Linked DNA regions of Homo sapiens: all the other regions are linked to region 1. Evidence: fine-mapped expression QTL. A gene starts in region 1. Each other region holds a variant in brackets. All regions are shown on one strand. Distances are between the middles of the regions.

Region 1 (8,187 bases):
TATCTAGCTAATCTGGTGGGGATGTGGAGAACCTTTGTGTCTAGCTCAGGGATTGTAGGTGCACCAATCAGTGCCCTGTCAAAACAGACCACTTGGCTCTACTAATCAGCAGGATGTAGGTGGGGACTTATAAGAGAATAAAAGCAGGCTGCCTGAGCCAGCAGTGGCAACCTGCTCGGGTCCCCTTCCACACTGTGGAAGCTTTGTTCTTTCGCTCTTTGCAATAAATCTTGCTACTGCTCACTCTTTGGGTCCACACTGCCTTTAAGAGCTGTAACACTCACCGCAAAGGTCTGCAGCTTCACTCCCGAGCCAGCGAGACCATGAACCCACCAGAAGGAAGAAACTCCGAACACATCTGAACATCAGAAGGAACAAACTCCGGACATGCCGCCTTTAAGAACTGTAACAGTCACGGCGAGGGTCCGCGGCTTCATTCTTGACGTCAGTGAGACCAAGAACCCACCAATTCCAGACACATTTTGGCGACCCAGATGGGACCTTCGCCAATCACCAAGCAGTAAGACCATCGCCTATTGCTGAGCGGTGAGACAATCACCTATTGCCAAGCAGTGAGTACCATCGGACCCCTTTAGCTTGCTATTCTGTCCTATCTTTCCTTAGAATTTGGGGGCTAAATACCGGGCACCTGTTGGCCAGTTAAAAGCGACTAGCGTGGCCACCGGACTAAAGACACGGGTGTCAGGTTTTCTGGGAAAGGGCTCTATAACAACCCCCGACTCTTCGGAGTTGGGACCATTGTTTTCCCTAGAACCAGCTTCTGCTTTTCCAGTACTTCTGGGCTGAGCCGAGGGTCGACAGAGAGGAAAGCCATGCAGCTCTGGGGTCCCGACAACAAGTTGGTTGACCCTGCGGCCATGAGCAGAACTCTCAAAAGCATGTCGCCCAAGCGAGACTCGCCCATCTATCCTATCTATCCTGACCCTTGCCCCCTGGGTCCTAATGCCTGTCAGACAAACTTCCTCTTGCCTCTCTTCTCTGAGGTTAGTCCCGCTTCTAAAAATTGCTACCGTCTCTGGTGCTTTTCTAGTTTCTCCTATAAGAATGATTTCTAGTATAAACTCCAGGACTCTGTTACCTTCTTTAGGCACCCGGGCTCACCAATCAGAAAGACATAATTTTTGCCCAAAGCCCCATCGTAGTGGGGACTACCTGGAATTTTAGGATCCCTCCTCAGACTAACAGGCCTAACAAAAGCTATTCCTGAAGCTAGGATATGGGGAGCCTCAGAAATTATATCCTTCCTATTCATATAAGTGAGGACAAAAGGTGTCACTCTTCCAAACCTGGAGATCCCTTCCCTCCCTCAGGGTATGGCCCTCCACTTCATTTTTGGGGCATAACATCTTTATAGGACAGGGGTAAAGTCCCAGTACTAACAGGAGAATGCTTAGGACTCTAACAGCTTTTCGAGAATGCGTCGGTAAGGGCCACTAAATCGATTTTTCTCAGTTGGTCCCCCTTGTGGCCTAGGAGGACAGGCAAGGGTGCAGGTTTTCGAGAATGCGTCGGTAAGGACCGCTAAATCTGACTTTCCTTGGTCCTCCATGTGGTCTGGGAGGAAAACTAGTGTTTCTGCTGCTGCGTTGGTGAGCGCAACTATTCCGATCAGCAGGGTCCAGGGACTGTTGCGGGTTCTTGGGCAGGGGTTGTTTCTGCTGCTGTGTTGGTGAGCGCAACTATTCTGATCAGCAGGGTCCAGGGACCGTTGTAGGTTCTTGGGCAGGGGGAGAAACAAAATAAACCAAAACGCGGCAGTTTTGTCTTTCAGATGGGAAACACTCAGGCATCAACAGGCTCACCCTTGAAATGCATCCTAAGCCATTGGGACCAATTTGACCCACAAACCCTGAAAAAGAGGCGGCTCATTTTTTTCTGCACTACGGCTTGGCCCCAATATTCTCTCTCTGATGGGGAAAAATGGCCACCTGAGGGAAGTACAAATTACAATACTATCCTGCAGCTTGATCTTTTCTGTAAGAGGGAAGGCAAATGGAGTGAAATACCTCATGTCCAAGCTTTATTTTCATTGAGGGAGAATACACAACTATGCAAAGCTTACAATTTATATCCCACAGGAGGATCTCTCAGCTTATCCCCATATCCTAGCCTCCCTATAGCTCCCCTTCCTATTAATGATAATCCTCCTCTAATCTCCCCTGGCCAGAAGGAAACAAGCAAGGAAATCTCCAAAGGACCACAAAAAACCCCGGGCTATTGGTTATGTCCCCTTCAAGCTATAGCGGGAGGGGTATTTGGCCCAACCCGGGTACATGTCCCCTTCTCCCTCTCTGATTTAAAGCAGATCAAGGCAGACCTGGGGAAGTTTTCAGATGATCCTGATAGGTACACAGATGTCCTACAGGGTCTAGGCAAACCTTTGACCTCACTTGGAGAGATGTCATGCTACTGTTAGATCAAACCCTGGCGTTTAATGAAAAGAATGCGGCTTTAGCTGCAGCCCAAGAGTTTGGAGATACCTGGTATCTTAGTCAAGTAAATGACAGAATGACAGCCGAAGAAAGGGACAAATTCCCGACTGGTCAGCAAGCCATCCCCAGTATGGATCCCCACTGGGACCTTGACTCAGATCATGGGGACTGAAGTCATAAACATCTGTTGACCTGTGTTCTAGAAGGACTAAGGAGAATTAGAAAAAAGCCCATGAATTATTCAATCGAACTAGAGAAAGAAAAAAATGGCACAAAAACACCTTTTGATCATCTTTACTAAATACAGGTTGTTATGGAACAATTATTAATCTCAGTCTAAAACCTATCTTATGCGGGTAATACATAATGGACTTTTTAAAGCAAATTGTTTTTCAGACATAACGCCACTGATAACACAAGATTAAGTATCTATCTCTTTTTAAAGATGATCCTGATAGGTACATAGATGTCCTACAGGGTCTAGGGCAAACCTTTGACCTCGCTTGCAGAGATGTCGTGCTACTGTTAGATCAAACCCTGGCCTTTAATGAAAAGAATGCGGCTTTAGCTGCAGCCCGAGAGTTTCAATCTTCAGGGGAAATTAAGTTCCCTCTTCACTGGGTAGATTAGAAAATGGTGAGTTGTTTTCTAAATAAGAAGGATCAAATTAGTCAGTTTTGCTACACTGGGAAATCCAACTCTCATGGGATAGTTGTTACCCTGAAAGTAGGTTATCCAGGAGATGAGGGATCAGATGTAACTAAGTGAACAACAGCCAGCCTCCATCCAAGCAAGAGCCCATATTCACAAAGAAGGAAGAGTTGCTGATGCCTTTACGGCAAAGATTAAAAAAAGGCATTTTAGATGTATATTAATTTACTTAATCCTCGTAACAACTCTGAGATATTATCATGCCCATTTTACAGATGAGCAAATGGAGACACAAAGAGATGAAATAATGTGGTCAAGGTTACATGCTAGTAAGTTGCTGATCTGGAATTCTAACCCAGGAAGTCCTGTCTCCAGTGTCTATGATTTCACCCACTACACTATACTTCTTAAGCATGTCAAGAAAGTGAGAACTTTAAATTGATTTAATTAGACTAACTCTGAAAGTCTGAAAATAAAATTGATTCATTGGAAACTTTTCATCAGTCCTTATTTTGGGGGATATTCAATTTAGTGAAATTTAGTATTTCAGTAAAGGTTAATTCACTACATAAAACAATGTGATTTTTTTCCTTTGAGGCACAGTTTAGTATTGTGATCAAGATTTCCCTGACTCTCCCAGCGGTCTGAATTTGGGTAAATCACTTCACTACCCCTTGACTCAAATTCCGTATTTATAAAACAGGTAAATACTGGTATTATCTTCTAAGAGTGTTGTGAGGATACGCAGATTTTTTAAAAAAGCAGTTAAAGCCTTTAAACAGTAATTATAAGCAGTTGTCATAATTATGCCGTTGTTAGACTTCTAGGTCAATGAATCAGAAAATTTAAATCTCAATGTTTGATTATAAAATCTGGTAACAGATGGGTGAAAAGGAACCTGGAATGGGTTTACTCTCCAGGAGTTCACATTTAACTTTTCTTTCCGAAGTTCCGTCTATTAACTCCTGTTCTATGAAGTGGTAGAAAAAGATGAGGTATTAATTTTCTTTCTTAACAAATATTTGAAGGCATAGTTGGTGTTGGCGAAGGGAGATGAGGAAGACATATGTGCTTTCTTATGATATTAAAACCTGGAAGACAATAAAAACGCTGATCAAATAATAAAAAGCGTTACCTATGGCGGAAAAGGAAGCTCAAATGTTCTTGTCAGGGGAAAACGACACAAAAACTGAAAGAGGGAAACAAAACAATTGCACAGGTGATATGCATTAGGGTTGTTAGGGATAATTTCTGCGCCCAAGGCTCTTATTAGTAATGAAATACGGTGTGAGGAGCTGAGATTCGTTCTGCAGTCTCAGTGTTAGTCGGAAAGTAACCCCTCCCTTCCCATAGAAACAGAACCGGACTGGCGGCGCGATTACACCTAAAACAAGTTGCAACCTCATTTCCCTGTAGGCACGCCTCTTTTATCTTAACCACGCCTCTTCATTCCCTAAGCACGTCGTAAGCAAAGGGAATATCGCGAGATCTGTACATTGTCTCTTTTCTGACGTTTTCAGCTGTGATAGTCGCTTTTGTTCTCGCGATATTTCCGGGTACGCGGGAGCCCCGGCGACCCGGGCTTCTGTGAAACATGGCGGTAGGCTGGGACCATAACACAAGGTAAAATACTGAAACACCGCTGGGTGCTGTTCCCTCGGTTGTTCCAGGGCTGTTTAGGGCGTAAATGCAATTGAGGGAACTGGGAGCCTGTCATGGGCTTGGCTTCCTGTCTTCATTGATCTCTAGAGAGCCGGTCGGACGGAGAAGCCGCTCCACCTCCCACGGGGGCGTTACTGGCAGGACCCTAGGCAACGATGCTACTGGGAGCTTCCCTTTGCCAGGTCCGGGTGCTTGTGTGCTATCCTGCAACTCGAAGGAGTTCAGGTGCTTCCTCGATCGCACCTGATTCTGACCCTTTGCTTGTCACAGTGCCCGGTTCCCAGGTGGTTTCTCCAGTCCGCAGGCGAGTAGGATCCCAATCGGTCGAGTCCCAGTCCTCCCGGATGTCAGACTCCCTACCCCCATTCAGACAAATGCCACATTCGTGGCAGCACGTTGCCCTCTGTCTCTTTAAGAGTCTTGGCCTTGCCCGGAAGGAGTTTCGCACAGTGCTTCGGAAAATGAGAAGGGGGCGGGGGAGGGCGAGATGCTGAGAGACAGGTTCGACTGTCACTACTTTTCCTCGGCGCAGGAAACCTTCCGAAGGCAACGTGTCAACTCGTGGTGGAGAATAGCCTTGTTTATCTGTAGTATATAGAGTTGACAGGTCATTGTTTGAGAAAACACGTTTAAATAACTTTTATATTTTAGTGCCCCCGAGACTTAAAGACAAAGTGGCATAATAGCTGTTAAAATGTTGCCAGACTGGTTTTCAGAAGCAATGAAAGTTACAGTTAAAAACAGGATTTATTCATTTGAAGTTGTAATTCAGTATTTCAGTTAATTGCCTAGCCTGATACATTGGACTCCAGTATACAGCAATTATAAAGAATGAGCCTGGCTTGTTCACTGAAAAAAGACATGGTTATTTACCTAATTTGTTTGTTGATATCTTTAAGTTGTTGTAATTATGCCAGTTCTAGTGGAAAACATGAGGAAAAAAATTCTGATTTTTTGGGAGGGTGGGGGTTGGCGGTGCAGGGATGGATAGAGAGAGGAGGATTTTTTTTTTTTTTTTAAATGATGGTGAACTTTAGTATACAGTTGCGTGTTATAATGGCTTCCTGGTACAAATCATAAAAATATATCAAGTTTGAAAGATCTCTCAAAGGAAATCAGGCCTAGTCTGGAACAACGAGAGTTAGGGAAACAACAACAACCACCCACACATTTTCTTTCTTTGGGGATTGATGATTTAAGTGAAAGAAATGGCTATTTTTTTTTTCTTTACCAGAAGTTACTTTTAGGCAGTCAGTGCCTGCTAAAAATCCTATTTAATAGTTTCCCAATATTTATTGTAATTCTGCCTCTTAATGTCATAGTGGTCAAATTATTTAACCTCTCTGTGCCTTAGTTCCTTCATCGGCCAAATGAAATAATGATACTTAACTCATAGGAAGGTTGTGAGGATTGAATGTGTTGAAACATACAAAGCATTTAGAACAATACCTGGCACACAGTAAACACTCAATGCATGTTAGCTCTTGTTATTTTTTATTTTCATTTTCTAACATCTGTAGTTACAAATGTTGCCTTGTTACTTAGTCAAAATGTAGACTGAAGAAGATATTGTTTAAAATAATATCTTTCTGAACTCCAGATTGATTAAACACTCTGATTGGTGTGGTTAATGTGTCCTTAAACTCCCATTATCCAGTTGCTTGTTTTCTTAAATTATTATCCTCTTTTAATGACTAAAGCATAAGTTCTTCCTTTCTATTGCTCTATATAGTCACGTTGTAGTGTGGCTCAGATCTACCCTCTGAGTGCCTTATTAACCCCCATACTCTTTGCTTTTGAGAACATTCATTCTATTGTAAATATATTTCATGTGTCCCTGACCTTTTCCTTAATACTTTTTAACTTTAATTTTCTATACTTTTATTGAGAGCTACTATAGTCTAGTTGTTCTTTGAGGAGGATTATACTTGTCCTTGCTTCACATTGCTACTAGGCACTTTTAAGGTTATTCTGTTATCACTCTATAGTCTCTCTTAACTTTTAGTCTTATCAGTTTATGCCATCCTAACTTCAGGAGATTGTCAACTAACCTCACATACTCTCCCACTTTCCTCAAAGACTTTAACAACTAAATCTCAAATATCCTACAAATCTTTGCTTTTTTTCAGAGAATTAGAAATAGATATTACATGCCTCATTTTTATCTTAACACTGTGAGGTAGCCATTATGTCCTGCTGCCCATCTTTTAAAATAAAATTATGGAGAGAGGATTCTAAGAAGTTGAGTATCTTTCCACACTTGTCACACAACTAGTAAGTGCCTAGGTAATCAGGGTTTTCTGATTATAAACTCACATTTATATTGTCTTCCTTGGCTTCCAAGTAAACCTTTCTGTCACTTAGAATGTCATTAGGTTTATTTGAATTATGTTGGGGTAAACAAACATAATATTTAACTCTGTTGTAAAAGGTCCAAATTTTAAGGTAAAAATAAGTACAATTGAGGGGGTTGGGGGGTTGCTATCTAGTATTTGCAAAGTAAAGCTAAGCTATCTTATAAAATGTTTTTTATTGTAAAGTATTCTAATGCAATATAATCAAGTAATTTAAAATTACAGATAGGTTGTAGTTTTACCTTTTATTTCTGATATTCAGCGATGGCCTGAATTATATTGCCTGTATTAGTTGCCTGGGGCTGCTGTAACAACTTACTATAAGCTGGGAGGCTTAAAACAAAAGAAATTTATTCTCTCACAGTTCTGGAGGCTAGAAGTCTGAAATCAAGGTGTCAGCAAGACTTGAAGACTCTAGGAAAGAATCCTTCTTTGACTCTTCCTGGCTTCTGGGCAATCCTTGCTATGCCTGGGTTTGTAGACACATCACTGTAGTCTCTGCCTTTGTTTTCACATGGCATTTTCCCTTGTGTTTCTCTGTGTCTTCACATGGCCTTCTTAAAAGGACACCAGTCTCAGATTTTGGAGCACCCTGATCCAGTATGATCTCATCTTAATTAGTTATATCTGAAAGACTCAAATATTTCCAAATAAGGCCCATTCATAGATACCAGAGGTTGAGACTTCAACATATCTTGTTCAACGTATCAAATTGTGAGTTGACACAGTTCAGACTGCAACTTGGCCATATGTATTAACCAATTAAATTTTTCTCATATTGCCAAATATGTATTAAAAATAGAAGTTAACTCAAAACTTGGGTAGCAGGAAATAACTTTTGTCTTCATTTTTCTTTGGAGAATTAAACTTAACTGAGCAGACTATAAAAAGTTCATGAATTCTGTATTTTAATTTTGGTAAAGCATTTAATAGTCTCATTATATTCAGATGGATACAATGATGAAATATAGGCTGTGTGACTTTACTTACAGTGAGTGTTGATAATGTCTGTGTTCCAACCTGAAAGGGAGTCTCTTATGTCTTAGGAAGTTTTTCAAAATACAGTC
Region 2 (8,187 bases), 80 kb after region 1:
ACTTTGGGAGGCTGAGGAAGGAGGATCGTTTGAGTCCAGGAGTTTGAGACCAGCCTGGGCAACATAATAACACCCTGCCTCTACAAAAAAAATGTAAAAAAATTAATGGGGCATGGTGGTGTGCACCTGCAGTTCCAGCTACTCAGGAGGCTGAGGCAGGAGGATTGCTTGAGCTTGGGAGTTGGAGGCTCCAATGAGCCATAATTGTGCCACCATACTCCAGCTTGGGTGACAGAGACCCTGTCTCAAAAAAATAAAATAAATAAAAATAAAAATAAACAAATAAAACAAATAAAAATAAAATATCACTTATAATACAGCCAAACAGACCATCTGAAGCTCATCCAGCCACTTCCTAGGTTCAGAGGAGATTAGTGTAATAAACATGCACATCCACTGGTTGGGCCAAGCCATTCTTAGGACTTAAACACTCAATTCAGGGTTGCTGCTGCTGTTTGTTCTCAATTTGTTTTTAAAACAGTAAATAAGTTAGCATAGATAAAAAACACATATAAACCAAAATACATGTCTGAAATTAATCTAAATGTCCTCCAGTATACTCAAGAAGATGTTTTGAACCCATGGGTCTCAAATTCTAAACTTGAATTGCTTCAGAAGAAGCATAAAGTCATTGAAAATTTCAGAAAGCAGTATGTATATGTCTATGTGTGTTCACATATACACACATACACAATTTCTTCTAAATATTATCAATTTTGGTTTCAAACTTATTGAATCAACATGATTATATCATTAATGGTTTATTTATGTATTTACTGAATGAATTACCAAGAGGCATATGTATTTCCCCTCCCCTGATACCCTCAATTTTCTTATGCAACAAGTGGGCAAGCCTAGTAGTTTATCAGGAAATCTGTTAGAGAGTAAGTAGTGGACACACTGTCTTATGATAATGTTTGCTCTCTCTTTCTCCAGGGTAGATTATGTCATTCTCTTGATTGTTGTAGTTATCAAGTTGTATTTGCTTATGTGTCTGTCTCCCCACTGGACAGACAGTGAGTCCAGAAGATCAGGGATTATGATTTTTATCACTGTGTCTAATCACCTTTCTGCCCCCAGGAGCCAGCTGCCTTATTCAGTAAATGCATGTTCTTCCACATGATAATCTTGATTGGCCAATTTCTATACTATGTAAGGTTTTGGGAAGCAGAGATGGACAATGATGAGAGAAAGTGGATGAACTCAAAAGAAGACGAGGTTGTAGGGAGAATGTGGGAAAGGAAGGAAGGGGTTATCTTTTAGAGCAGGAAGCAAAATTGGAAGTAAAGTGTCCAGTGGCAATGGTGAAAAGTGTTGACCAACCTCGTTTTGGTGAAGGTGGCTTCAAGGTCAACTTAAACTTTCCAGTGGGAAGCAGGGTATTTCTGAGCCTAATGCTTATGGAGAATTGGCCTCTGTATTTCCCTCAAGACTTTTACGGAGCACCTAGCCAGGCTCAAACATGAGCCAGATGCTGAATACCCTGCCAATGGCCTGCCATTTGAAAATTACTCAGTTTGGTTAAGAAACAATTTAATCTTATTCTGGTTTGTAATTTAAAGCCTGCTAATATCAAAGTACACAGAATTCTCATTTTTACTTAGCTACATAGATGTCATTTTGAAGCTGTGCCATCCTGAAATTAAAAGCACAAGTGCTAGAATCAGCTTTCACCGTTCCCCTAGAAGAGGTCAGCTTTTTTAGTGTTAACAATGTGTTCTATAGCACGAAGGCAAAAAAGACTACTTTCTAACATCTGACCTCCTTTCATATCTCCCAGAGGACTGTGATAAGGGCCACTGCTGCTGGCTGTGGGGGCCTCCATTCCCCTGCCTCTCACACCTGCACCCTCAGTGCACACGCCACCTTTCCTTTTTCACATGGCAGCTTAGCTGTGTCTTCTGGTGACTGTGTAGCCTCAGAAGCATGGTTTTTAGTAGGTACAGATCTACTAGGAACTTTCCATTAAAGCTTCTAAGAACTGAAAGACAACAGGAGGCAAGGAGAGCAGGAGAAAGAGGGAGCATAGAGATAAAGAAGATAAATGATCCTCATTTCAAATGAAGACTGCTCAGTGAAAAACCTCCTTAAGGTAGTCTTTCCCAAACTTGCCTGCTCATAAATATGAATTACACAGGGCCCCTGGGAAAAATCCAGATTCCTGGGTACCATTTTAGAATCACTAAATACATCTGCAGAGTTAAGAGTCTGATAATCTGTATTTTCAACATGCCCTGGAAATTCCAACAGTCGGGCAAATCAGGGAATCACTAATTTAAAAGAAGTCCACTCCATAAACTTAAGTCATTGAGATTTGAATATATCAGGATTAGCTCTCAAAAACGCATTGCTTCATGGAGTAAAATTTCAACAGAATTGAATTTTAAAAGAATTAAATCCCTGGTACTAGAAATGCAAAACATGACAAGTATGCATGTTCTAATCTGGAGTTAATTTGATAGGTGCAACCCCATATGCAAAGCAGTAGCCATGTCCTATTGTTTTTTTCTTTCCCAAAACATGGAGATGTTTTTTATACCTGTTGCCTCACCCTCATTCTAGTCTTCCATACTACTCCTCTCTGGTAATGGGTCTCGCTTCCTCCGTCTACTCCCTATGCTAATCCACTGCCTCCCCCGGCCCCTGGCTATATTAATATTCCTGAAGCCCACTTTCATCAGTATTTTTCCATGATGAAAACAAATGAGCAAACAACCCCAAATTACACACAAAAATGCATGCGCACACATGGCCCTCCTTCAATGGATCTCTACTGCATAGAGAATTAAATACAATTCCTCTGCATGGTATGCAAAATCTCCACAGTATGGCCCATCCTCCCCTCCAGCTTGATCTCTAACTTCTTCCCTACACGTAACACATGCGCTGCCAAGATGGACTACTGGCTGTGTCCCAAACACGCCTGGGTTTCCCAGCTCCAGCTGCCCTGCCAGGCACGTGTGCACATCTCACCTATCCACACTCTATCCACTCTTCCAAGTCTTCTCATATGCCTCCCTCCACTCCACCAGACTTAATATGACCTGTTTCCCCACCACCACACGTGTATAATTCTGCCGTGTTCTATTTGTCTTGGATACGAGCTCTTTGGAACATAGTCTATATCTTAAGAAAGCACCTTTTTTTTTTTTTTTTTTTTTTTTTTCCTTTGAGATGGAGTCTCGCTCTGTCGCCCAGGCTGGAGGGCAGTGGCACAATCTCTCGGCTCACTTCAAGCTCTGCCTCCCGGGTTCACGCCATTCTCCTGCCTCAGCCTCCCGAGTAGCTGGGAGTACAGGCGCCCACCACCACGCCCGGCTAATTTTTTGTATTTTTAGTAGAGACGGGGTTTCACCGCGTTAGCCAGGATGGTCTCGATCTGACCTCGTAATCCGCCCAACCCAGCCTCCCAAAGTGCTGGGATTACAGGCTTGAGCCACTGCACGCAGCGAGAAAGCACCTTTTAATCTCTACCACTGCCAAGTACGTGAGTAGACTGGAAAGACCATGGGCTTCAGAATCAAGTGGCCATGGATAAAAATTGTGTCTGAGAGACTTTCAAGGAGTTACTTAGCCATTTTGAGCTTTTTGCTCCGTGATTAGTATAGCAGTGATAATAATATCAACCTTACAATATTACGTTATGGAATTAAATGTCTGTGGAAGTGTCTTCCTCACAGTAATTGCTCAATAATGATTCATGTCCTCCCTTCCCTTCTTAATTCAGATTTATTTACATATGCTCAATAGAGCAATAAATATTTGTGATTCCATTTTTCTAGTACCTGCTTCCAGTTATTTCAGGTTTTTATACAGGCACAAAAGCCCTTTTCTTCTACACTGCTTTCCCTAAGAGGAGTTACCTTGACCTAAAAAATAAGGAAAGCACCAACCATAAAACCCTGCCTTTCTTGGTCAGTTATGTGCATTTTAAAAAATAAACATTCTACATAAGCTGTTATTCTGGAAAACTGGAATTTCACTGGCAATCCCTGATCCATTTATGCACATAAATTTCCAAAGGTAAATATACCAACTAGGCAGAAGCTGGCAATATGAAGGTAGAGCTGAGTCAGAATGGGAACCGGTGGCTGGGATGAGGGGCAGAAGACAACTACAGATATAAGAGCCAGGAAAATGAGTCGCTAAACACTGATTAACGGCCAGGCTTGTCATACTCATTAAAAGCATTAACTCCTGATTTAAGTTATTTTTAAAATATATTTCTGCTAATGTGCTAAAGTTTTTGTACTAACTTCATCTTTCTGGAATATTTCAGGGCCAAGGTAATGCTAAAAGTTTTTAGATAGGGGCTAAAGAAAGGGAGCTCAGGCCTGACAGTCTCAGCATACAGGATGGATAGAAAATGGGGGGAGCTGAATGAGCAGAGACTTTAGGCCTGCAAAGGTTGGGACCAGGATGTAAGCATGGGGTTCAAGTTCACAGTCCCATTATTAACAACACTGAGCAGTACCACTGCTGCCCAAGCAAACAGGAAAGGTCCGGGCCAAAAATGCATATCCTTCTTTATTTCCCAGAACTGGAATTCCCATTCAACTGATTTTCTGGAAAAATAAAGTTTCATTTTACGTCGTCATGGTGATTTTCTTGAGAATATAATGCCAAGAGTACAGCTTCAAGATCATCTTGTTGTCTAACGCCTGGTTCCTTATAAATAAATAAATAAGAACTGCTGAATTACTAAGAGCAATGGCAGCCACTAGACCCCTTGAAGTTACTGTTAACAACAACAACAACAACAACAACAACAAC[T/AACT]TTCCCCCAGGCATTTCTCTGTTGCACTGAAAGAAAGGAAAACTCCCAGGGGAAATAGAAACCTAAAAACCTTGGAAAATAATTCCATTTTAACACAGACCAATTACTAAATAGAGAATTACTCAAAGAAACAAAGTATTTTCCTAAAACAAAGAAACTAAACCTGGATTTAGGTGAATTGATATTTATTCAGAATGATTTTTAATGTTGTTATTCTAAAACTTCCAAAAATTCCATCTGGTATAGGAGTCGTTGAAATAGTCGTAGATCATGGTATAGTTGGTGAGGGGTTGCTGGGTTTTATTTAAAGTGCTATTCAAAAGTTAACATACAGGTTTCATTCAAAGTTTAAGAAGAAAAAAATGAACAACCAGAAACAAGGGTAAGATGTGGGGATATGGATAGATATTTTATACATAAGACTTCTGCATCCCAAAATATCAGCTTGTTACAGAATTCTGTCATCTATTCTTGCTTCAGTCAAAACAAACAAACAAAAACAGTCAAAACAGTATGAACAATAATCGTCTATGCCACCAAAAGCTTTTCATTCATTCAGTGAGCATTGAGTCCCTAGCTGGAGATGCAAAGAGGAGCAAGAAATATTCTCTTCTGTTGAGAAGCTCATTGTCTAATGTAGAATGTAGATAAGCAACCAGACATTCAGAATGACCTGTGTTACAAGCAATAATACAGCTGAACACTGGGTACTATGGGAGCACTTGGGAAGGGTGCCTAAGCCAGAGAGCTTCGCTGGGGAGCCTTGATATCTGAGTAAGAATTAACCAGGTGAAGCAGAAGGGGAACTAAGCTCTAGGGACAAACAGAGTTTCGAGTGCAAAGGCAGGCAGAGTATGAGGAGGGAAGGCCTTACTTCTTTGTGACTGCAGCATGAAAGTAAGGGGAGGACTGAGAGAGATGAGGCTGGATAGGTGGTCCTGGATGTCCTAATTAATTCTGAATTAGCAAATAATAAGTATGACTTTTCCCTGTTTTTTAAAAAAACTTAGTTCCTTAATTGCACCCAGAATTTATCTGTTGAGATAAAATAATTTCATTCCTAGTTCTAATTAGTTGCTTAAATAATTGTTATCCTTGGAGAGCAGTAAATGACAGATGGAGGTTAAAAATTTTGTACAAATGTCAGTTACAGTTTGTTCATAAATCATGTAGCAATTACCTGCCTTGTCTGGTTGACATATACTTGAGGGAGGATGGAAAGTGCTGAATGCCTGAAGATAAATCAGCTCTTCCTCTGGGAGGTGAGTTTATTCTTCTTTGAAACCTAGGGGTATTTAGTGTCTGGATATAGTTTGGGAGGAAGTGGTATGGAGTACCTAGAGAAGCCCTTCACTATGGGTGAACTCTTACTTCTTTTCTTTTCTTTTTCTTTCTTTTTTTTTTTTTTTTTTTTTTGAGACAAAGTTTTGCTCTTGTTGACCAGGCTGGGGTGCAATGGTGCAATCTCAGCTCACTGCAACCTCCACCTCCTGGATTCAAGCAATTCTACTGCCTCAGCCTCCCAAGTAGCTGAGATTACAGGCATGTGCCACCACACCTAGCTAATTTTTTGTATTTAGTAGAGACAGGGTTTCACCATGTTGGTCAGGCTGGTCTCGAACTCCTGACCTCGGGTGATCCACCCACCTCGGCCTCCCAAAGTGCTGGGATTACAGGCATAAGCCAACACACCTGGCCTCTTACTTCTTTTCTCTGATGAACTCTCAGGCTCTTTTGCTACCTCAAATTGCACTATGACCTGTCAGGTGTTAGAGAGATCAGCAGTGGAGAAAGTCCCAGGAAACAATCTGGAATCAAAAGGGGTCTGCCCCTCTCCTGGACATATCAAATATGAAAACATCACATTTACCAAGAGACAACACCATAAGAGGGTAACTGACAGAAACCAATTCCATCCTGAAAATGCTCTGAGGCTTTAAACATACTTTATTGTCTAGACTTTGGGCCTCAGAATACACCTGCTTTTTCTCCCACTATCCTGATGAACTCTGCACTCTAAAATTTTTCTCTGTACCAATTTAGCAAACCTCCATTTATTAGCAACTTTAACCTCCAGATCCTTTAGATGACTTTCATTCTTCTTTGTCCTGGATATTTTTACATGACAGACAAAAATATCTATTCTCAGAGCTGGAGGAGATAAAAATGTTTGCCCTGAAGGTAATGAACTCTTGATTTAGCTAAAACTTTTTAAAGAGTATATATTAAATATAAATACAGTATTATATAAAATTATAATGTGACAAATTCATTGTGAAATAGTCCATTTTTCTGCTATAATACTTTTTATATAGTTTTTTACAAAAAAAAAAAACAAGGTAAACTTAGTAAAATGGAGCAGAAGAATAAAGAAGCAGAAAACAAACTTATTCTAAGACCTGAGCTGTGTTTTAAGATGAAAGTGGTTTCTGCTCATTGGCAAGAAGAGAAAAATCCTAGACATTATTTCTCTTGCATCCTAGGACAGTAAAGAAAGTGTGTCTCAGCCAAATAAGTCAAGAGACTGTCACCTTCTGCCAGATCTTGGAGCAATTCTTATTCTTCATTAGTTCTTTTTTTTTTTTTTTTTTTTGAGACGGAGTTTCACTCTTGTTGCCCAGGCTGGAGTGCAACGGCACAATCTCGGCTCATTGCAACCTCTGCCTCCCAGGTTCAAGCGATTCTCCCCAGGTTCAAGTGATTCTCCTGCCTCAGCCTCCCAAGTACCTGGGATTACAGGCGCCTGCCACCACATCCAGCTAATTTTTGTATTTTAGGCTGGTCTTGAACTCTTGGACTCAGGTGATCCACCCGCCTCAGCCTCCCAAAGTGCTGGGATTACAGGCGTGAGCCACCACCCCCAGCCTCTAGTTCTTTTTTATGAATTATTTGATTAAGTGCTGTTAAACACTCCCTAGCACTGCAATAAGTGTTTTATATAACTTTTTTCAACCTCACAACTATAAAATGGGCCCATTTTACAAATGAAGGACTTGGGGCTCAGAGAGGGCAAGGAATTTGCTCAGTCACACAGGTAGTTACTGGTGGAGCTATGCCAAACTCACGTCAGTCTGAATCAGACATTTTTCTTCTGAACTTTTATACTATACATTATACTTGCTTTATCCAGTGACAATGCTAAGTTCATTAAGAAGTGAGAAACAACTTCTATGTATAGTATTCCCAAGTACCTCATGCAATCCTACGCAATTCCACAAAATGTTTAAGAATTTTCTATCCCCCTTCTCTTTTAGCAGTATATTCCCCACCAGAACTAGCAGGGACAAGGTAGCTAAGGCTAGCACCGTTTCAAAACATTTTGCTTCAAAAGTGTTTGACTTCATCATCTCATTAATAGCTACAAAGAATCAAAGAGAACAAAGGAACTTATTCTACCCGCCCCTTGATCCTTTT
Region 3 (8,187 bases), 100 kb after region 1:
ATCGGTAAGACACTAGGAAACTCGAAATGCTTTCAACATTTCTTTGAACTTTACTACTGAATGATTTATTTGCAACTCATTATCTGGTATAGTGGGGAAAAGCCATCCATGTCTTTTTAAGCCAAGACATATTTAAGACAATAATAAAGCTAAAATATCAATTGCACTATCTACATTTGCTTTTGACACAATGAAAAGCTGATTGGTTCATAATTACATGAGCATATTTTCCATAAGTAAGAGATGAAACAGCAGCTCGGAAACCCTTGGTCTGTGGTGAGCATGTTCACATTTCAACACACGAAATTTGGTGTGCGAAATTTACCTAGCAGCTCCTCAGATTTTATGAAAAACTAGATGATAATTTTTTAAAAAGCAATGTTGAATACTTAGAATCATATTTCTAATAAAAATAAGTCAAACTATTTAATTTTGATAAACAGTTTCAAAACTAAAAATGAACTGAACTTATACTTGATGACATAATTTTGTAAATTCATGATTGATTTCTGCCTTATTCTGATTTATTTACTACTTTACAAGATAGGTGTTTCTTTTCTTCCACTGTAAAAGTGTAATGTGTTCATCGTATTTGGAAAATGTGGAAGATAGAAGATTACTGTTCTTATTTTTTCACTATTATAAAGGGTAATTTTTCCTCACCATAGAAGTAGCATAATCATAATTCTAATTTGAAAATTTGAAAATGCAAAAAAATTGTAATCCAAGATCACAACAACATTTAGGGCTAATAGTTGAGATTATACTGAATATAGTTTTGCATCTGTTTTTGCACCAATATATTACAAGGCTTTTTGTGTCATTTACTATTTTATAAAACATGATTCTTAATGCCTGGATACTTGTCTAACACTTGTATATATTGTTTATTTAGTCATTCCTCTATTGTGGAACATTTAAATTGGATCCAAGTTTACTATAAGTAATACTACAATAAAAATATCTATACATTATTTGTGGTGTCTCTGGCTGTTGTCTTGGAGTGACACCTTAATTATCTTTGTGAGAAAGTCCTCAAGAATCCTGCCATTAATTCATATACTTTCCCCCCACTGGTATGTCCCTTTAAGTGCTCTGAAAATACTTAAGAAACTTAGTAATAAGAAAGAAAATTAATCTTCTTTTTCGATTCTTCACTTCTAGTTCTCTGTGGCCAATGGATTTTTTAAAATCCCTTTGTCTAGAGCATCTCCCATTTAATAGTTTCTCTTTGACAGCAGGGAAACTGGAAGTCAGATGTGATATCTATGCATACCATAAAAGGAAAAGAAGGAAGCAGATGTCTGAATTTTGATACATAGAACAGATGTCCTTTTGATCACATTTCCTGGGGGATGTAGTTGTAATCAAAGGCCAACTGGTAACATTTTTGGTTACTATGTTTTAAAAAAAAATTTCCAAGCCTCACATAGCTGACATGGTTTATTACCTTCAGGAACACTGTAGTACTTGCAGTGAGTTAGAATTCATTCATTATTATGTGTGACTGGAGAGATGTATTGCTTAAAAGCTATACCAGGCCCTACTTAGGAATAAGTTACAACTGCATTAAATCACTCTGTTTGTGTCAAACTCGTTAAAGTTAAATGGCAGAATCTAGAGGGGGACTTGATTAACATGAGATAATAAATATTTGCAGAATCTGATGCCTACCAGAAGAAACTCTGACCCAGACAGGATCATTGCATAAGAGGTTGGTTTTAGAAGTAGAGTTGGCTGAAATTAAAGTCTCGAGTGACATGAAGACAGTGTTAAAGATAAATCCAAACTCTTCTTTATTGCTTGACACTTTTCCAATCAGCATTGACTTCATTCCTGGCAAGCTGATGTAACATGGTGAGTTCTACCTCATTTTATACTTTATTTGGTTAGGATATGGGGGAGGGGGTAAAGGTGCAGGTTGGTTATTTAAAATGTGCAGTCACCTCCACCAACTTTCCAATATAGGGCTATTACTTAAGGGAATACACCCATAAAACTTTGATTTTCTAGTAATTCTGCTTTTGTGCATTCCTAATTTAAGACTCAGTGAGGGTGAAAGAGTTTTAGATTTGGCAAACACTGCACTATTTTCTTGAATTTTTTGGATTTGCTAAAACCAATAACAAATTTATTACCCAATTTTTTTTTCCTTTAACTTTTCCGTGTGTTGCCACTGAATCCTCCACATCTGGTTCAGTGCTTGACACTTAGTAGGCACTCAGCCAACACTTATTGAATGAACAAGTTTAATGCATTCCAGTTTTTTTTTTTTTTTAGGTGATGTTGTGCCTAATGTATACACCTTCTTTCTTTCACTTCTTCATTAATCCTTTTGTTCATGTCTTTTACTTATGCCAAGCTGTCACATTGTGTGCATGAACCAAACGATTTATTTTTTCTCCCACAGCCCCAGAGTCCGCAAATGACAGACCTTAAACCTAAAACACCCATTAGTTTCCGTCTTTACTCTTGCAGAATGAGTTATGAAGCCAAAGATCGCAAGAAGAGCACACTTCTTAACAGCCACTTCAGAGGTGACAGCCAGGGAATAAGAAATAAGGAAGAACTTTCCAGAGGATGGAGCCACCACAAATAATAATGGAAAAGAAGGTTCCTCCCAGAGATTAGATTTAGAGGCTATTTAAGGAATTTCCCCACTCCCAGTGTAGGAAGCTTCTCAATACTCGCTAATCAGGATTTCCTTATGGTTATATTCTAGGGACTGCTGCTTGCCTGCCTGTCTTCTCTTTTTTGAATAGAAGGTGTCTTTGTTTGTTTGATTTTATTTTTTCTTCAACTTCGCTGTTCTACAATGACAAGAGATAGAACAGAGACATTTTCTACCTCAACATTGGGAGGCAGAAAATTCACCTTTTTATCCAAGAATACCAAACCAGAAGCTGAAATATCTGGATCTGATAGAGAGGATAGTCTATTCCCCCTTGGACTTTGGACTGGATGCAATAATGGTATGAGACCCTGGGGTAGGAATGAGTGTCTTCTATGTGTGGGAAAGAGAGGAAAGCAGATATTTGGCGACCTAAAAAGAAGGCCATGGCAGAACCTCATTAGTTGTTCAACAATCCTATTTTCCTTTTCTCCTGGACACACAGCTATGCATTTTCCAGCCATCCTTGTGGTTAGATGCCCAGTGACAGTTCTGAGAATGGAATATGGACAGATGTGATAGGCACTTCTGGGCCTGGGCCACAAAAACCTTCCACATGATGTCCAGTGCCTCTTTTACCCCACTGACAGTTTTTTATTGTCATCCAGAGAGACCTTGGATGGTTTAGAAGCCATGTGTAGAAGATGGCAACCTTCCCTTAGCATGGATCCTTGAATGACTGTGGAGTGCAATGCCTTCTACCAATTACACCTACTGTGTTTGAGAATCAAATTTCATTTGTATTAAGCTACTGATTTGGGGGGTTTATCTCCTTCAGCACCCACATTAGTACAACTCATGCAGAATGGAGAGTTAATGTGAACACATATGGCACAGACTGGTGAAACCTAGGACTTTAAGATGATAGATGAATTTCTGATTATACTTTCCTTTCCCGCAAAAAGTTTTTTTCAAATTAAATGTTGTAATATAAATGTGAATTCTTAAATATCTTTCTAATGAAATGATGACTAACTATAGAAAAGAGAATGCAGGAATATATACATCCTTGATAAGAGTGTGAAACTGTTACAGGCAATCTAGAGGGTCTTGCCTAGGGATAACGAACAAAATAACATACCTGGGTAAAAGAAATGAGAGGTTACTGATAAAAAACTAACATTTAGCCGGGAGTAGTGGCTCATGCCTGTAATCCCAATACTTTGGGAGGCCGAGGCAGGCAGATCGCCTGAGGTCAGGAGTTTGAGACAAGCCTGGCCAACATGGTGAAACCCCATCTCTATCAGAAATACAAAAATTAGCTAGGCATGGTGGCGGGTGCCTGTAATCCCAGCTACTTGGGAGGCTGAGGCAGGAGAATCACTTGAACCCGGGTGGTGGAGGTTGCAGTGAGCAGAGATTGTGCCACTCCACTCCAGCCTGGGTGACAGAGCTAGACTTCATCTCAAAAAAAAAAAAAA[T/AT]TATATTGCACAATATAAAACATTATTTTATACTTAGGATCACATTTGATCTTTGCAAATCCATATGAAATAGCTATTATTATCAGATACAGTTTATGAATAATAAAAACAAGACTCATATGGGTTAGGTAACTAGGCCATGGTCTCTCTACCAAGCTCTATCTCTCTGATTGAGGAGAGAGTATCTAGAGCATCAGTGTTCTTTTTACTGCCTTATGCTACCTCCCAGTACAGGTATAACAACTAAACCTACAAGTAACCTGCAATTGAGGGTTTAGACTTTTAGCATCTTTAACCATCCAAAACATAGCTGTGGGACCAAAAAGCAAAAAACAGTTTACAAAAGCCCATATTTATTGCACCAAGAAAAAGCCATGTCTGTGAAATATTGCTTAGAATTTGTGTACTAAACTCAGCATAATGAATTAACAAACTCAGTGACCTCATTTTCTCCTAGATTACAATAAATGGAAGACTTAAAATGATGAGAAAAATAAACACAGAAAACCTCAATTAACAGGGTAGAGGATGACCTATTGAAAGATTGGGCATTCATGTGTGGGAGGTAAAGGCAAGTCCTGTGAGTGGTAGGCAGTCCGAGGCAAGTGTTCTCTCTTTTTGTTGTTTGATTCTAAATTTATGACAACTGAAGAAAGGGCCTTGGCCTGGTCTGGATCAACTTGGTATGGAGCCCATGAGAAATGAAAGATGATTCATAAACATACCTAATTCATCCCAGGCAACAGCAGAAATGACCATGAAAAATGAGCCATCTGAGAATTCTCAACGATTCTTGGAGAATGTCATTAATTACATTTTTATTACAGGGCAGGGATGCCCAAGCTGACATATGGGTTACAAAGGCAAAGTAGAATTTCCCTCTATGGGTTTTGTTAATGTAAAATATAAATTAATAAGCTTTTTGCTTTTACTAATATGAAACATACCCATCAATTAGTTGTCTTCAATTCAGAAAGAACTAAACTAGAGTTCGATAGTATCTTAAATCCAAAAAATAAAAATAAAAACCCAACCAGCAGCCATTTGCTGAATTCCTGAGTGCTTAGGAGTCTCCATTTCTAGTCTAGCAAATGTCTTCCAGTTGCAATTTTAAACATTTTTCCCAGATCTTTCAAGAAACCTGTAATAGTATCAAGTCCAGCACACAAAGCTAGCTTTCTGTAAGCAATCAGTCTCATCTACCCACCTTTACTTTATACAGCCTCCTAAATTCAACCTTAGAATAAAAAGTACTTTTTTGTTGTTAAAAGTCTGTTCTCTAGCCAGGTGTGGTGGCTCATGCCTGTAGTCCCAGCACTTTGGGAGGCTGAGACCAGAAGATTGCTTGAAACCAGGAGTTTGAGATCAGCCTGTACAATGTAGTGAGACCACCATGTCTTAAAAAAAAAAAAATTAAAAACAATAGCTGGGCATGGTGTCACATATTTGTGGTCCCAGCTACTTGGGAGGCTGAGGTGGGTGGATCACGTGAGCCCGGGAGGTTGAGGCTGCAGTGAACAATGATCATGCAGTGCCCTCCAGCCTTAGTGATAAGAGTGAGACCATGTCTCAGAAATTTAAAAAAAGTCTATCCTCTGCCTCTAAGGGACTTTGTTGTTATAAAACTACTGAAAATTTGTATAAATATATCTTATTAAATATAAACATATTTTATTAAAACTATTGAAAATATATATAAACCAGGTGTGGTGGCTCACACTTGTAATCCTAGCACTTTGGGAGACTGAGGCAGGAGGACTGTTTGAGGCCACAAGTTCAAGACCAGCCTAAGCAACATAGTGAGATCCCATCTGTACAAAAATTTGAAAATTAGCCAGCTTTGGCAGTGTGTGCCTGTATTCCCAGCAACTCAGGAGGTTGAGGCAAGAGAATCCTTTGAACCCAGGAGTTTAAGGTTACAGTGAGCTGATTGTGAACTGTACTCCAACCTGGGCAACAGAGTGAGACCCTATCTCAAAAAAAAAAAAAAAAAAAAGAAAGAAAATATGTACAAATGAATGTTTTAAATTGAAACAATTACTATAGCACCAAAATGCTCATTCGATGAGATGGAAATTTCTTCTTAAATGTCTATTTCTCATTTTGCAGCAAAGGCATGATTATACTTCTATAAATTTTTGCCTTACATAGTCAGATAGAAGCATGCAAAGTAGGCAGAGCCTAGGCATCTACCTGAAAGAAATGCCCTCCTGCATTTTCTTGAACATATTAACTCTTCCTGAGCTCCAGTGGCACTATCTCTGGAGTCCTTTTCCGGCAGATAATTTTAAAGCAGGCGTCACTTGTTATTTTCTCTCTCAAATTGCCGTGTTCTTTGTCTTCACAGTACTTTTGAAAATACTTAAATATACATGTGTTTCTTATGAAACTCGTTTGCCTCACTGGACTTTAAGATCTGTGAGGCCAATTCCATGCCTGTTTTATTTTCTACTTTATTGCCCCTGTTCCCCAGGCACAAAGCAATAAGTGCCTGACATACATTTGGCTCTCAATAAATACTTGTCATATTTGTGTGCTTGTTCAACTTTTCTCACTCTTTTTGTGTGTAGGTGTGTACTTTCTTGTTATTTCTGGACACTTACGGATTTCCTTATTTTGCCTCAAGGTCAGCTATGCATTAAAACTATTTTATGGCCAGGCGTGATGGCTCATGCCTGTAATCCCAGCACTTTGGGAGGCTGAGGTGGGTGGATCACGAGGTCAGGAGTTCAAGACCAGCCTGGCCACGATGGTGAAACCCCGTCTCTACTAAAACTACAAAAATTAGCCAGGCGCGGTGGCAGATGCCTGTAATCCCAGCTACTCGGGAGGCTGAGGCAGGAGAATCGCTTGAACCCAGGTGGCAGAGGTTGCAGTGAGCTGAGATAGAGCCACTGCACTCTAGCAGCTGGGTGACAGAGTGAGACTCCGTCTCAAAATAAATAAATATTTTATAAAAAACGTATTTTATCTATTTTTTTTTTTGAGACAGAGTTTCACTCTGTTGCCCAGGCTGGAGTGCAGTGGCACATACACACACATATATATATATAATCTAGAGATTTTACATATATATATATATAAAATCTAGAGGTTTCTTTCACCTTTCAAACATAGCTCATCCCCATAACTTAAAAAATATAAAAAAATACAATTTTATCTGTCTTGTCTTTATTTTGAATTTTCAATTTCAAAGGGAATACAAGCAATAATATCTTGAATCTCATAGATGGCCAGTAACTACTTCTTGCATAATTCCTTATTTGCACAGAGCTTTATCCACAGCCAATCAGCGATAGCATTCTTATATTCTGAAGCATACACAATTTTGTAGCAAAAACTTTTCAGTTTTGGGATACGCAGCAATAAAATCAAGCACATATTTTTTTCCATGGAAAATCTCTTTACAGGTATCAGATTCCATATAGTGACAAGAAAGTAGATATTTGCATAGCTAATGGCTTGTGCATTAATAATCAGGTGATAGAATCTGTTCTTGTTACCCACAAAATGGCCATGTAGACATGGTTTGTGATCTACCGTAGATGTGTTTTTCAACTATATTATACACATCAGATTCCCTTCCTCCCACAACTCTTTGAGGGAAAAATTTATGGGAAAAAAAACACTTCTTTTTTTGGCATAACTTAGTATACAGCCTAACTTAGTAAAAAGTGAGGCCCTAGGAAATAGTGGTAAAAGCCATACCTTAAATCCAGAAAGGCTTGAGGGCAAGAGAGAAAGACGCAGAGACTCCCTGGGTAAGCAAGGTATTATTACAGCATTTTACAGATAAAGAAACCAAGGCTCAGCAAAGTATATATCTAGTCCACTATCACACAACTCACAATTGGTCGTATGGAGATTCACACCCAGGTCTGTCTGCCTCTGAAGCCCAGGCTGTTAAGTACCATCTGATCACAACAGATAGTTCTCAGGTGATCTTGAATGCTGCTGATATTGGGACCACACTTTGAGAACCACTGTTCATAAAAGTCAACAGCTGACAGTAAATAGCCCAATAGTGAAAACAGGTGCTGAGATTTGCAAGGCAGTTTCACAGATAAGTTACATAGAGTATAATCACGATTTCCA

Alleles and levels. Alleles are on the strand shown, and positions count from the first base shown. SD is a standard deviation of normalised expression in the study named. Not every link is listed here.
For the expression in macrophages of the gene that starts at base 4,670 in region 1, allele T in region 3 goes with a higher level than allele AT (moderate effect, 0.46 SD a copy in Nedelec 2016).

Evidence for each region.
Region 2: its variant is fine-mapped to the expression of ERGIC2 in whole blood (INTERVAL, PIP above 0.99).
Region 3: its variant is fine-mapped to the expression of ERGIC2 in macrophages (Nedelec 2016, PIP 0.95).

The regions. Positions count from the first base shown.
Region 1 is chr12:29,377,655-29,385,841 of GRCh38, reverse strand. ERGIC2 (ERGIC and golgi 2) reads left to right here and starts at 4,670. Exons shown (of 14, transcript NM_016570.3): 1 at 4,670-4,727. RefSeq lists an enhancer at 4,938-5,107.
Region 2 is chr12:29,297,216-29,305,402 of GRCh38, reverse strand. The region is part of intron 4 of FAR2 (fatty acyl-CoA reductase 2); the gene reads right to left. All of the region lies in intron 3 of FAR2-AS1 (FAR2 antisense RNA 1), which reads left to right. Among named protein-coding and RNA genes, the nearest start is that of FAR2-AS1, 17 kb to the left of the region's middle. The variant T/AACT (reference allele first, on the strand shown) is at 4,774.
Region 3 is chr12:29,275,834-29,284,020 of GRCh38, reverse strand. The region is part of intron 2 of FAR2 (fatty acyl-CoA reductase 2); the gene reads right to left. FAR2-AS1 (FAR2 antisense RNA 1) reads left to right here. Exons shown (of 7, transcript NR_103860.1): 6 at 1,661-1,857; 7 at 2,479-3,606. Among named protein-coding and RNA genes, the nearest start is that of FAR2-AS1, 38 kb to the left of the region's middle. The variant T/AT (reference allele first, on the strand shown) is at 4,093.